4 linked regions of the Homo sapiens genome follow. The protein of the gene in region 1 purifies or fractionates together with the protein of each later gene. This does not show direct contact. Each region holds a gene or a part of one and is shown in the gene's direction. Other genes may lie near its edges.

Region 1 (3,572 bases):
TATTTTTTTCAGATGGAGTCTCACTCTGTCGCGCAGGTTGGAGTGCAGTGGTGCGATCTCGGCTCGCTGCAACCGCTGCCTCCTGGGTTCAAGCGATTCTCCTGCCTCAGCCTCCCCAGTAGCTGGGATTACAGGGGTGCGCCATCACACCCAGCTAGTTTTTGTATTTTTAGTAGAAACAGGGTTTCACCATGTTGGCCAGGCTGGTCTGGAACTCCTAACCTCAAGTGATCTGCCCGCCTCAGCCTCCCAAAGTGCTGAGATTACAGGCGTGAGCCACCGCGCCTGGCCGAGATTTCTTTTTTTAAAAAAAATCTCTTTTTTATTTTATTTTACTTTAAGTTCTGGGATATATGTGCTGAACATGCAGGTTTGTTACATAGGTATACATGTGCCATGGTGGTTTGCTGCACCTATCAAGCCATCATCTAGGTTTTAAGCCCCGCGTGCATTAGATATTTGTCCTAATGCTCTCCCTCCCATTGCCCCACACCCCCTGACAGGCCCCAGTATGTGACGTTCCCCTCCCTATGTCCATCTGTTCTCATTGTTCAGCTCCCACTTATGAGTGAGAACATTTGCTGTTTGGTTTTCTGTTCCTGTGTTAGTTTGCTGAGGATGATGGTTTCCAGCTTCATCCATGTCCCAGCAAAGGACGTGAATGAGATTTCTTTTTCAAGAGCCTTTTAACTATTAATTCAATTTTTTAGTAGTTACAGGACTTTTCAAATTATCTATTTCATATTGGGTGAGTTATAGTAGTTTGTGCTTTTTGAGGAATTGGTCCATTTCATCTAAATTGTCAAATTAATGGATGTAGAGTTGTTTTTAGTAATTTTTTTTTCTTTTGCCTTTTAATGTCTGTGGTGTCTGTAATGAAAACCCCTGTTTCATTGCTGATACTGGTAATGTTTGTCTTCTCTTTTTCTGTTGTCAGTCTTGATAGAAGTTTTTTGTTTGTTTTCTGTTTTTGTTTGTTTTTGTTTTTTGTTTTGTTTTGTTTTGAGACAGGGTCTCACTCCCATTGCCCAGGCTGGAGTACAGTGATGCAATCTCAGCTCACCCGCCTTCTGGGTTCGAGCAATTCTCCTGCCTCAGCCTCCTGAGTAGCTGGGACTACAAGTGCTCGTCACCACACCCGGCTAATTTTTGTATTTTTTGTAGAGACAGGGTTTTGCCATGTTGGCCAGGCTGGTCTCGAACTCCTGGCCTCAAGTGATCCACCCGCCTTGGCCTTCCAAAGTGCTGGGATTACAGGCATGAGCCACTGTACCTGGCTGATAGAGGTTTTTTGATCTTTTCAAAGTACCAGCTTTTTGTTTCATTGTATTTTGATTGTTTTTGTTTTCAGTTTTACTGATTTCTCCTTTTATCTTAATTATTTCCTTACTTCTGCTTGTTTTGGGTTTTTTTAATCATCTAGTTTCTTGAGGTAAGTACATAGATTATTGATTTGAGATCTTTTTTTCTCATGTATGTATCTAGTGTTACACATTTTCCTCTTAGCTTCACAAATTTTGATGTTGCATTTTCATTCAATATAGTTTTATTTTCAATGAATTATATTTAAGTATGTTCTTTAATTTTAAAATTTCTGGATAATTTCCTGCTATCTTTCTGTTATTGACTTCTAGTTTGATTACACTATGGTTATTTAATTTATTATTATTATTTCAATTTTTAAACATTTGTTCAGATTTGTTTTGTGGACCAGGATAGGTTCATGTTGTGAATGTTCCATGTATACCTAAAAATAATGTGTATTCTGTTAATAGGTGGAATGTTCTATAAATGTCAGTTCAATTCTGTTGGTTGATGGTACTGTTCAGTCCTTCTGTATCCTTACTGACTCTCTGTCTAGTGAGTCCATCATTTGTTGAAAGAATGGTGTTGAAGTTTTCAACTATAGACTCGTCCATTTCTTCTTTCTGTTCTTTCAGTTTTTGCCTCAGGAAATTTGAAGCTCTGCTATTTGCTCTGTACATATTTAGGATTGCTATAACTTGTTTTTGGATTGACCTTTTAAACCTTATGTAACATTCTTCTTTGTCCCTGGTAATTTTCTTTGCTCTGAAGTCTATTTTATCTAATATTAATATAGCTACTCTTCCTTTCTTTTGATTAATGTTTGTATGGTGTATCCTTTTCAGCCTTTTACTTTCAGCCCATCTCATTATATTAGAAATTAATGGTAATGTTTTTAAATCCATTTTGCCAATCTCTTTTAGTTTATGTATTTAAACCATTTATACTTAATCTAATTATTGATATTTTAGGACTTCAATTTGATTTGTTTGTTCCCTCTGTTTTTATTCCTTTGTTTTCCTTTTCCTGTCTTCCTTTGAGTTACTTCAACATTTTTTAGAATTTCATTTTATCTGTAGTGTTTTTGAGGGTATCTCTTTGTATGTTTATTTTAGTGGTTTCCTTGAATTATACATGTGTAACTTATCACAGCCTACTGGTGTCAACATCTTACTACCTCCAATGAAATGTAGAAAACTAATCTCCATTTAGGTTCCTTTATCCTGCCCCTTAAATAGTCTCTTAAAAATTTTCTCTACATATATTGAGAACCACATCATACAATGTTACTTTGCCTCAACCATCAAAAATAATTTTAAAAACTCAAGAGAATAGTTTATTAAATTTACTCATATTTTACCTTTCCGTTGTTCTTTCTTCATTTGTGATATTTCAAGCCTCCTTTTGTCATTTCCTTTCTCTGGGGAAGAACTTTAGCAGTTCTTTTATAAAAGTTCTGTTGGCAAAAATTATCTTAGTTTTCTTTCATGTGAAAATGTCTTTATTTCACCTTCATTCCTGAAGGATATTATCATGGGATATAGAAATCTGGATCGAGGCTGGGCACTGTGGCTCACTCCTGTGATCCCAGCACTTTGGGAGGCCAAGGCAGGTGGATCACTTGAGGTCAGGAGTTCAAGACCAGCCTGGCCAACGTGGCGAAACCCCATCTCTACTAAAAATACAAAAATTAGCTGGGTGTGGTGACGGGCACCTGTAATCCAGCTACTTGGAAGACCAAGGAATGAGAATCATCTGAACCCAGGAGGCGGAGGTTGCAGTGAGCCAAGATCACGCCACTGCACTCCAGCCTGGGTGACAGTGAGACTCTGTCCAAAAAAAAAAAAAAAGAAAAATCTGGATTGGCAGATATTTTCTTTCAGCACTTGAAAACTGTCGTGTCACCTCCTTCTGACCCCCATGCTTTCAGATACAAAATCCGTTGGCATTCATATTGTTGTTCCCATAATTAATGTGTCATTTCTCTCTAGTTGCCTTCAGGATTTTTTTGTCTTTACTTTGCTGAAGTTTGACTATGCCATGGCTTGGTGTAGATTTCTTTGAGCTTTTCTTCTTTGGGGTTTGCTCAAGTTCTTGAATCTGTAAATTTATGTCTTCTGCCAAATTTGGGAAACTTTCAGCCATATTTCAAGTACTTTTTCAGTCTCTTTTTCTGGAACTTTGATGACATGCATGATAGATCATTTATTATGGTTCCACAGGCCCCTGAGGCTCTGTTTATCTTTTTTTAACTCTATTTTCTGTTG
Region 2 (2,812 bases), on another chromosome or scaffold:
ACCTCTACTGGTATTCCTATAGAAAGGGCTTATACCCCATGGAACATTTTTGTGGCTAGGAAGCATTACTTTGTTAGGACATTCATAGACTTATTTACTATTCTCATCAACACCAGGACTTCGCCTCCTTTTTAAGTCGATTTTTCACCTGTTTTTATCACAGAAGAGCTCTTGTGAGCTGGATGATAGAGAGAGCTCAGCCTTGCTGAGAGGCAGATGCAGGTAGTTACCAGCTGCAGTAATAAACTGCAGCCGGGATTCAGCTTCAGCCAAGATAGCACTTCTGGTCTTAGAGCCACACAAGTGATCAGAATCACAAATGTGAAATCCATGACTGCCCAAGGCCTGTCCTCTTCTCCTGCTGAAGGTCTCCAGTAGTGTATATCATGTTTCTGGGCTGCTGTAACCCATGCTGTTGTGTGTCACAGTCCTCAGAACTGGAGCCCTGAAGACTTAAACCGGTCCTAGGAACTGAAGCATTAAACCAGAAAGAGCTGTGGGGAGAGTTGTCAACCTAGCCCATCCCCAGGATGTAATGACTTTGACAGATCTTTTACTATAACATGAAAAGATCAGGCCAGGTGTGGTAGCTATAATTCCAGCACTTAGGGAGCTTGAGGCCAGGAGTTTAAGACCAGCTGGGGCAACACAGCAAGACCCTATCTCAAAAAAAAAAAAAATTAGGCATGGCGGCACACACTTGTAGTCCCAGTTAACTCAGGAGGCTGAGGCAGAAGGATGGCTTGGGCCCAGGAGTTCAAGGCTGCAGTGAGCCCTGATCACACCACTGCACTCCAGCCCGGGCGACAGAGCAAGACCCTGTCCCTAAAAAATGGGGGAAATCAGTTGCATGTCACCTAGACCAGGTGGGCCACACTCGCACTTGAACGTTCCGTGACATCAAGAGCAGCAGAATACCCAGACATTAGCCAGGATGTCTCCGAGCCATTCATGGCATCACACAGCCAACCAGGGCATCTTGTCATTGTTCTAGCACAACAGGGCGACTTGGGTTATCCGTAGAAATACTGTCCGTTAATGAGTTTGTGTTTTGGCTCACATGAAATCACAGCCCTGAGGAATCTTGGGAAGCCATGTCCACATGTAGGTAAGTTTTCCTTTGCATTCTCTCACTAGCCTGCCATGTGTCTCTCCTCTTTCCTAGTGGGCCAGGACTGCTACACGAGAATCTGGAGCCTCCACGATGCCCGCCTACTGAGAACCATACCCTCCCCGTACCCTGCCTCCAAGGCCGACATTCCCAGTGTGGCCTTCTCGTCGCGGCTGGGGGGCTCCCGGGGCGCGCCGGGGCTGCTCATGGCTGTCGGGCAGGACCTTTACTGTTACTCCTACAGCTAATTCTGCAGGGCACAGCCCAGAGCCATGTGGATTTGACTTACGGGAGTAAAGCGTAACTTTTTACTGCATCTAATGAGGGTGTTTTAAGTGACACTCAGTGTACACAGATCCCATCCTCTGGCTGCTAGGAGAGAAGTGCTGAATGTTCCGTGTGGAGATGCTCAGGAAAGTTATTTGAGTTAAATTGCTGGCTGAGAGAGCTTGGAAGTCCTTTTCATAAAAGGTACCTCTTTCCTTTTCTTATTGAATTCTTAGAACTTAGTTAACCCTCCCTGCCTTTTCTTAACAAAAAGGACTTTTCTAAGGACTGAAGATTGGCAAAAACGAAAAGCTTCTTCCTCCAAGAGCCCATTGAAGAAGCCCAGTGATGAGACGGTGAGATGGTTTGAGTCCTCGGTGCCTGGGTAGCAGGAAGAAAGACCTGCATCCTGCATCTGTACTTGGGGAAGCCAGCGGAGAGGACGGGGAGGTTACTTCTCTAAGTTTCTGCAGAAATATTGAAGGCTGGAGTTTGGAATCCTTAAACTTGGCCTTCTCAAACTCAGCAGCAGATCTCCGGGATTCTGCTGTTATTATCCAAAGGCGTTGGAAGGAAAGATGGATCTTCTTACATGCTAGAAGTTTTAAACGGTCCTTAACATGCCTTTGTTCAAGCACCTTCCAGAATGTAAGGTTCAGCAGCTCTGGTTTCTATTACGGTGACTTGAATGTCAGATTCAAGGGCCCGGCGTCAAAGGAAATTGGTTTTGACTTTTTGTAATCTAGGAGCGACAGTTCGTGAGATGTTTATTCAGTGTTAAAGAGCCTGTTTTTCTACCAAACAATAAAACCAAGAGAAGAATCATGGTGTGACATGCACTTCTGTGAATGACTTAGGAGATCATGAGCTTGGGCTGCTGGGACCAGCTTTCATAGCCTTCCTGGAGAGCTTCCCTGGGCCCCTCCAGACCCACTCTGCCCTCATCATCTGTCCATCTCCACCCTGCTCTGTGCATGCCCAAAAGACTCACCTCTGGACTAGGTCAGGGTTCCCTGGCTCCCAGCAGCTAGGTAGGTTCAGCCAGTGGGAAGCAGCAGTAGAACACAGAGGGCAAGAGGAGAGGGAGTGGTTCCCCGGCTCCCTTCTGGTTGGGCTGTGGGTGGCTGTAACCAAAACCCACCACTTCTATTGGAAAGCGCTCAGAGAGAGCCGGGTTCCAGCAACTCTTCATTTGTCCCTTCAGACCTACAGCTGGTCATCACACCTCACTGTTGCTGGCCCAGAATGCCTCACTAGGTAGACTCGCAGTTACCCACTTGAATGTTTCCTGCCAGTACCCTGACTAATACAGCATATTCTATAAAGAACCAAATTTTTTTTTTTTTTTTGAGATGGTGTTTTATACTTGTTGCCCAGGCTGGAGTGCAATGGCGCTCTCACCGCACCCTCCACCTCCTGGGTTCTAGTGATTCT
Region 3 (3,572 bases), on another chromosome or scaffold:
CAAAATCCCTTTCAAAAGAATAATGGCTTCTTTCTTATAACATTAACTGGTAAGTTGATAATGCTGGTCATAAACCATATTTTTAGTTCCTTTGTGATTTGTATTATCTTCTTGTTTTTCTCTGAATTGCAGAATTTTAGTTATTGCTATACAAATAGTTTCAGGAAGGATAGAACAACATTTGTTTTCTAGCCATCTTTGGAGTAAAGCTGCGAAGTTGCATCTACCATTACTATTTCCCTTCTTGCCCCCTCTGAAGTTTATAAGTGACTAATCTGCTTTGCTGGGCAAGTCCTTGGTTTCCTTCTTTTAAGACTTTTATTTTCCTTTTTTTGAGACATAGTTTTGTTCTTGTTACCCAGGCTGGAGTACGATGGCGCAATCTTGGCTCACCGCAACCTCTGCCTCCTGCGTTCAAGCGATTCTCCTGCCTCAGCCTTCCGAGTAGCTGGGATTACAGGCGTGCGCCACCACACCTGGCTAATTTTCTATTTTTAGTAGAGATAGGGTTTCTCCATGTTGATCAGGCTGGTCTCAAACTCCCGACCTCAGGTGATCCGCCCACCTTGGCCTCCCAAAGTGGTGGGATTACAGGCGTGCACCACCGTGCCCAGCCAACACTTTTCTTTATGGGGGTAACAAGATCAGTATATGATCATTTTCATAGTTTGTTTTCTTTAGAATGGTGCTGTGATTTTTGTGTCTACTTTTTATGTCTAATTATTTGTTGTTATAATTTTGTTAAAGATCTCAGGAAACAGGCTCGACAGCTGGAAAATGAACTTGACCTGAAACTAGTTTCCTTCAGCAAACTATGTACAAGTTACAGTCATAGCAGTACCCGAGATGGAAGACGCGACAGGTATAGGTACTACCAGATTCTGTCTCCTATGCCTTAACTGTGTTTTTAAAGCATTAAAAAATAAACTAAAATATATAACTTCTGTAAGTTGGTCTATTGGTGAATTTTTGGTGTTTTGTTTTGCCATTCATTGTTTTATTTTTTAGTGACTTATTAAAATTCTTCTGAATTCTCGAGACTAGCATTTATTTGGAATCCTTAGGCAAAGATTGTTACAGTGTCAGAAGAAACCTGCTAGAACTTCAGAATAAGTTTGTATCAAAAATATAAGTGTCTAATTCAGCCAGTGTAGGGAAAAGGTGGCTGATTTGCCCGTGTGGCATGTATTTCTTGTGTTTTTCAATTGCTAAATGGACCTGTGGATCTACCCAGGTGCCAGGTATACATACTGCTTTTCTGGTGTTTATTGTATTAGAGGGTATCTAATGCACTGTGTATCCTTGTTATTAATTATCAAAGCTATCTTTAATTTTGGTACTTTTTTGGGAAACTAGTGTATTACCATATTAAATGTATGGAAAATACATTCTTATCTTTGAAGCTTATGCTCTCTGTAAGTCATCCACTTGTTTCAAGAAAATATTGGGAGTAGCCAGGCACAGTAGATGACGCGTGTAATCCCGGGACTTTAGGAGGTTGAGGCGGATGGATCACTTGAGCCCAGGAGTTCAAGACTAGCCTGGGCAACATGGTGAAACCCTGTCTCTAAAAAAAATAGAAATAAAAAAAAATTTTTTAATTAGGCAATATTTAAGACAGTTACAAAGAATAATATCATGAACCCCCATGACCCTATCTCCCATTTTTAAAAAATGATAATTACTCATTCCACTGAAGCCCCTTATGGCACCCCACTTTCTCCCACCCCATAATCCACATATATTCTTACTGCATGTTTATATTCCTGAGCAATTCATAGTATTCTATTATGTTATATAGTATATATATAATATAGTTATTCTACAACTTTTTCTTTAACATTTTTGAGATTCAGCTATGGATTCATTTAACTCTGGTATATTCATTTGTAATTCATATGTAGTATTTTATGACTATCACAGTTTAACCATTTGATGATGGCCATTGTTTCTAATTTTTGCTAATTAATAATAATTTTGATAGCTGACATAAGAGTGTTCATTATATGTTAGGTAAGAGCTTTCTATAAATGCTGCTGGGAACATTTTTACGCAGAATGTTTCTATATACCTAGCGGTGAAATTGCTGGTAGCAGAGTTGTTGTTAATCCACACTTATTTTACATACTTTTTCAAAGATTAGAAGTGAGTAGGATATTTGTCAGCTAATAAAAACAATGAAATCTGAGCTTAGATTTGAATCTAGATCTATCTCCAGAGCCCACACTCTAAACCCTACTATAGTGTATACATTTGAACAAAAAGCTGATTTCAACACTATAGCCAAATTACTATTTCTTTTTCATAAGGACTCCTTGGTTGTAAAGGCAGCAAGGCCAACATTGACTCTAGGATCTAAAAATAAATTACTAACACATCAAATAGATTGCATTGCTTTGGGCTTGGCTTTATTTAGCAAGTAAAGAGAATGAAGAATGTTCTTTCTATGCATTTTCTATGTTCTGTGTGCTTCATGAACTAATACTTTTGTTATTCCTCTAAAGGAAAAACTATCTTGAAAACATTTCCCAAGAAATTCTACCACAAACTGAAACTGGCTTTGTAGAATTACTTCAGCCTAACTCCCCTTCTAAATAAAAACCTAAGGCCATGAGGATCAGGATTTGATGTCTATTCTAAAGTGTCTTGTTTGATGCCCAGGTTGGAAGCATGTCACTATGAGTCAACTAAGCAATAACTAGAATATTATTTATTCCAGGCATCTTTCTTTCTTTTTTTTTTTTTTTTTAACTTTCTGTATTTTGAGAACTTCAAGGTCTATGAATCATTACCCACCTATAAGATGAATTAAATTTAACTGAATCCCAGTATTGTGAAGAATTAGTGTTTGGCCATTTCCCTTTACTCTTACACTGTCCTGATGAATATATGAATACAATGAGTATAGAATAACCAGTAGTAGAGATTGCTCTCGTGTTCATTCATTTATTCAGCAGAAGTTTAATGAGCATCTACTATGTGCCAGGCTGTATACTAGGTGCTAGGCATATATCTATGAATAAGACAGAGCAGTTTTTTCCTTCCTTCATGAAGCTTTAATTCTATTGGCATATTGTTCTTTTTCATATATCTGGTAGAGGAGGATTTATATTAGTAGTCTACAGAGCATTTATTTAATACTTTTCATTTGCCACACCCAGGCACTGTCACAGGGTAGCACAAAGTCTTCAGTAAGATTGGAGACTATAGTCATTGCCTGGGCATTTATCTGTGTCCAGTATAACTCTGATCTGTATTGAGCTGCTCATCAGATGCTAATACATACCTAACCTGATGAAGGTTAGTGGTGTTTTGGAAAAGGCAAAAGAAACACTGAGGACAGGTGGGTTTAGAATTTGAATCTGTCAAACCTAAGTTTCACTTGTAAAAAGATAGATTTTTGACTATTCAGATTTGAAAAGGCAATTTAACACAATTCTACAAAACAAAAGGATGATTGCATACTGTAAGTGAAAATGGAGAAGATTAGTACCAAAGCATGCAGGACATGGCTGTATATATTGGATTTAAAGCCAGTTCCTGAGTATTCGTTAGCTAGTTATCCAATCTGT
Region 4 (3,572 bases), on another chromosome or scaffold:
TTTTTCCTTTTGCAACGTATTTTGTTGCTAGTGTCAGCCTTAGCCTCCCTCCCTTTAAGAGGGAGAAGATATGTAACTAGTAAAGCTCTAAGGCAAGGCCTCATGGTCCAGAATGACTGCTGGAAGTCCAGCCATCACATCCATATTTGAGTCAAGAGGAAAGGATTGGGCAAAAGAGACTCATTTCATCTCCCAATTATGTCAGCCTTTTAAAAATATCTTCCCAGAATTCCTATCCAATACTTATGCCTACAACTATGACCAAAAGTTAGTCATATAGTCATACTTAGTTGTAAAAGAAAGGCTTAGCCGGGTGTGGTGGCTCACACCTGTAATCCCAGCACTTTGGGAGGCCGACGCAGGCAGATCACCTGAGGTCGGGAGTTCAAGACCAGCCTGACCAACATGGAGAAACCCCGTCTCTACTAAAAATACAAAATTTGCCGGCGTGGTGGCGCATGCCTGTAATCCCAGCTACTCGGGAGGCTGAGGCAGGAGAATCGCTTGAACCCGGGAGGCGGAGGTTATGGTAAGCCGAGATCGCGCCATTGCACTCTAGCCTGGGCAACAAGAGCGAAACTAAAGAAAGGTTGAGAAATGTAGTCTTTTGGGGCAATTTTCCCCTTCCAAAAAATTGGGGTTCTATTAATAAGGAGGAAGAGGAGAATGATTTTGGCTAAATAAACTGTAGTATCTACCAAAGATGAAGAGAGCCATAGGTTTCCAGAATAGTGGGAGAGCATATTTTTTTAGAAATAAATATTCTTGGCTGGGCATGGTGGCCCACACCCATCATCCCAGCACTTTGGGAGGCTGAGGTGGGAGAATTGCTTGAGGCCAGGAATTCAAGACCTACCTGGGCAACATAGTGAGACCCAGTCTCTTTTTTTTTTTTTTTTTTTTTTTGAGATGGAGCCTTGCTCTGTCGCCCAGGCTGGAATGCAGTGGCGCCATCTCGGCTCACTGCAAGCTCTGCCTCCCGGGTTCACGCCTTTCCCCTGCCTCAGCCTCCCGAGTAGCTGGGACTACAGGTACCCACCCCCATGCCCGGCTAATTTTTTGTATTTTTAGTAGAGACGGGGTTTCACCATGTTAGCCAGGATGGTCTCGATCTCCTGACCTTGTGATCCGCCTGCCTTGTCCTCCCAAAGTGCTGGGATTACAGGTGTGAGCCACCGTGCCTGGCCTTCCAGTCTCTTTTTAAAAAATTATTTAAATATATTTTTATTTTTGTAGAAATGAGGTATCGCTATGTTGCCCAGGCTGGTCTTGAACTCCTGGGCTGAAGCAATCCACCTACTTTGGCGTCCTCCCAAAGTGCTGGGATGAGAGGCGTGAGCCACTATGCCCAGACTCAGAGACCCTGTCTTTAAAAAAAAAAAAAAAGAATGTGGCTGGGTGCAGTGGCTCACACCTGTAATCCTAGCACTTTGGGAGGCCAAGGCAGGCGGGATCACCTGAGGTCAGGAGTTCAAGACCAGCCTGGCCAACATGGTGAAATGCTGTCTCTACTAAAAATGCAAAAATTAGCCGGGTATAGTGGTGCACACCCATAGTCCCAGCTACTCAGGAGGCTAAGGCATGATAATCACTTGAACCCAGGAGGTGGAGGTTGCAGTGAGCTGAGAGTGTGCCACTGAACTCCAGCCTGGGCGACAGAATGAGACTCTGTCTTAAAAAAAAAACAAAAGGAAAGAGAGGGAGAGAAAGAAAAGGAGAGAAAGGAAAGGGAGGAAAGGGGAGAGGGAAAGGAGAGAAGAAAGGCGAAAGTAATGGGGAAAGGAAAAGGGGAAAGGGGAAAGAAAGGGGAGAAAGGGGAGAGAGGACAGGAAAGGAGAAAGGAAAGGAGTCTTACTTGGTCTGCTTTATTCATTGACTTAAATAACTTTGATACTTTCTGGCCCATTTAGGTGTTTGCCATTGTACCCCCACTCAGAATGACTGATGCTGTGCCATGCACATAATAAATGTTCCTGATGCTGGGGTTTGCATTGGCTGGGACTACCTGAGAATTGGTCTGACTCCATCAGCGCCATTGCTGGTGGAATGTTTCATTGGGTCATGGCCTCTGAAGTATCTTTATTTCCATAGGCAATCTTGCTGCCAATGATCTCTCCCCGTCCCGAATAGCCAGACTACAGAAGATCCTTCACAGCTATGTGCCTGAAGAGATCAGGGATGGAAATCAAGTTCGAGTTACCTCATGGGATGGCAGGAAATGGGGAGAACTGGAGGGGGACACCTATGACCGGGTGAGTGATTCTTGATTTAGGACATGCATCCAGCTTAATGCGGCCTCCCCATCCTGGTTCTAGGGCCTGAGGGGTTAGGATCCAGCCCCTATGTTTGAGCATGTAGAGCTGTTTCTGGACTGGCCAGTTCTACATTGGTGATTTGACCAAAAGAAAAATCAGCTTAGATGACTGGTTATTATCTCTATTAAAGATAGTTGGCAGCAAAAAAGAATTTGAAACTATTTGAGTAGGGGAAAAATTTACTAGGCTTACTTTATTTCTCAAGTCACTTGGTTGCTCAGAAAGCCTCATGAAGGTAAGTAAGAATAAGCTCATTTATTTATTTTTGAATGTTAGTACAGCACATGGTACAAAATTCAGAAGGCACAAAAGAGTATCCAATGAAAAGTGAGTTTTTCTCATCTGGCCTGTAGCCCCCTACTTCCCCACCCTATAGATAACGATTGTTTCTTTTTTTTTTTTGAGACGGAGTTTCGCTTTTGTTGCCCAGGCTGGAGTGCAATGGCGCGATCTCTGCTCACTGCAGCCTCCGCCTCCTGGGTTCAAGCAATTCTCTGCCTCAGCCTCCCGAGTAGCTGGGATTACAAGCGCCCACCACCACGCCCGGCTAATTTTTGTATTTTTTTTAGTAGAGACGGGGCTTCACCATCTTGGCCAGGCTGGTCTTGACCTCCTGACCTCGTGATCCACCCGCCTCGGCCTCCCAAAGTGCTAGGATTACAGGCGTGAGCCACTGCGCCCAGCCGGTAGTATATTATATTATACTCACTATTCTGAACTTTGTATTTTTTTATTTAATAATGTGTCCTGGGGTTAAATCCTTTTTTAATTTTGTTGACATTGTGGAAGTATAGTTGTTGAATAACAGTTTACATCCATTTAAGATTTTGATAGCGATTGCTAAATTTCTCTGTGGAGGTTAAACCAGTTTCACTCCTACTGGTAATGAATGAGTACTGATTTCCCACATGCTGCCAATATTGGTGCTATCAAACTTAATTTTTTTGCCAAATGGATAGTATCTAATTTACAATCTCTTATTAATCATGTTGAAAATCTCCATATTAATTTTTTTAAAGTTTTTTTTTTTTGAGTGGCAGGTTTTCACTTTGTCACCCAGGCTGGAGTACAGTGGTGTGAACACGGCTCACTGCAGCCTCAACCTCCTGGGCTCAAGGGGTCCTCCTGCCTCAGTTTCCCGAGTAGCTGGGACTAGAGTGTGCCACCATGCCCAGCAAATGATTTTTTGTAGAGACGGGGTCTCACTATGTTGCCCAGGCTGGCCTCGAACTCCTGGGCTTGAGCAGTCCTCCCACC

Evidence for each region.
Region 2: the proteins of CHST7 (region 1) and DCAF4 purify together in Homo sapiens (co-immunoprecipitation; one large-scale study listed by IntAct). This does not show direct contact.
Region 3: the proteins of CHST7 (region 1) and GOSR1 purify together in Homo sapiens (affinity purification with mass spectrometry; one large-scale study listed by BioGRID and IntAct). This does not show direct contact.
Region 4: the proteins of CHST7 (region 1) and NSUN4 purify together in Homo sapiens (affinity purification with mass spectrometry; one large-scale study listed by BioGRID and IntAct). This does not show direct contact.

The regions. Positions count from the first base shown.
Region 1 is NC_000023.11:46,591,384-46,594,955, forward strand, and holds part of CHST7 (carbohydrate sulfotransferase 7), read left to right. Parts: intron 1-3,572.
Region 2 is NC_000014.9:72,957,447-72,960,258, forward strand, and holds the end of DCAF4 (DDB1- and CUL4-associated factor 4), read left to right. Parts: intron 1-1,165; coding exon 1,166-1,359; 3' UTR 1,360-2,257; downstream 2,258-2,812. UniProt on the Homo sapiens protein: May function as a substrate receptor for CUL4-DDB1 E3 ubiquitin-protein ligase complex.
Region 3 is NC_000017.11:30,480,396-30,483,967, forward strand, and holds part of GOSR1 (Golgi SNAP receptor complex member 1), read left to right. Parts: intron 1-747; coding exon 748-862; coding exon of another isoform or gene 863-868; intron 869-3,572. UniProt on the Homo sapiens protein: Involved in transport from the ER to the Golgi apparatus as well as in intra-Golgi transport. It belongs to a super-family of proteins called t-SNAREs or soluble NSF (N-ethylmaleimide-sensitive factor) attachment protein receptor.
Region 4 is NC_000001.11:46,350,777-46,354,348, forward strand, and holds part of NSUN4 (5-cytosine rRNA methyltransferase NSUN4), read left to right. Parts: intron 1-2,091; coding exon 2,092-2,252; intron 2,253-3,572. UniProt on the Homo sapiens protein: Mitochondrial RNA cytosine C(5)-methyltransferase that methylates cytosine to 5-methylcytosine (m5C) in various RNAs, such as rRNAs, mRNAs and some long non-coding RNAs (lncRNAs).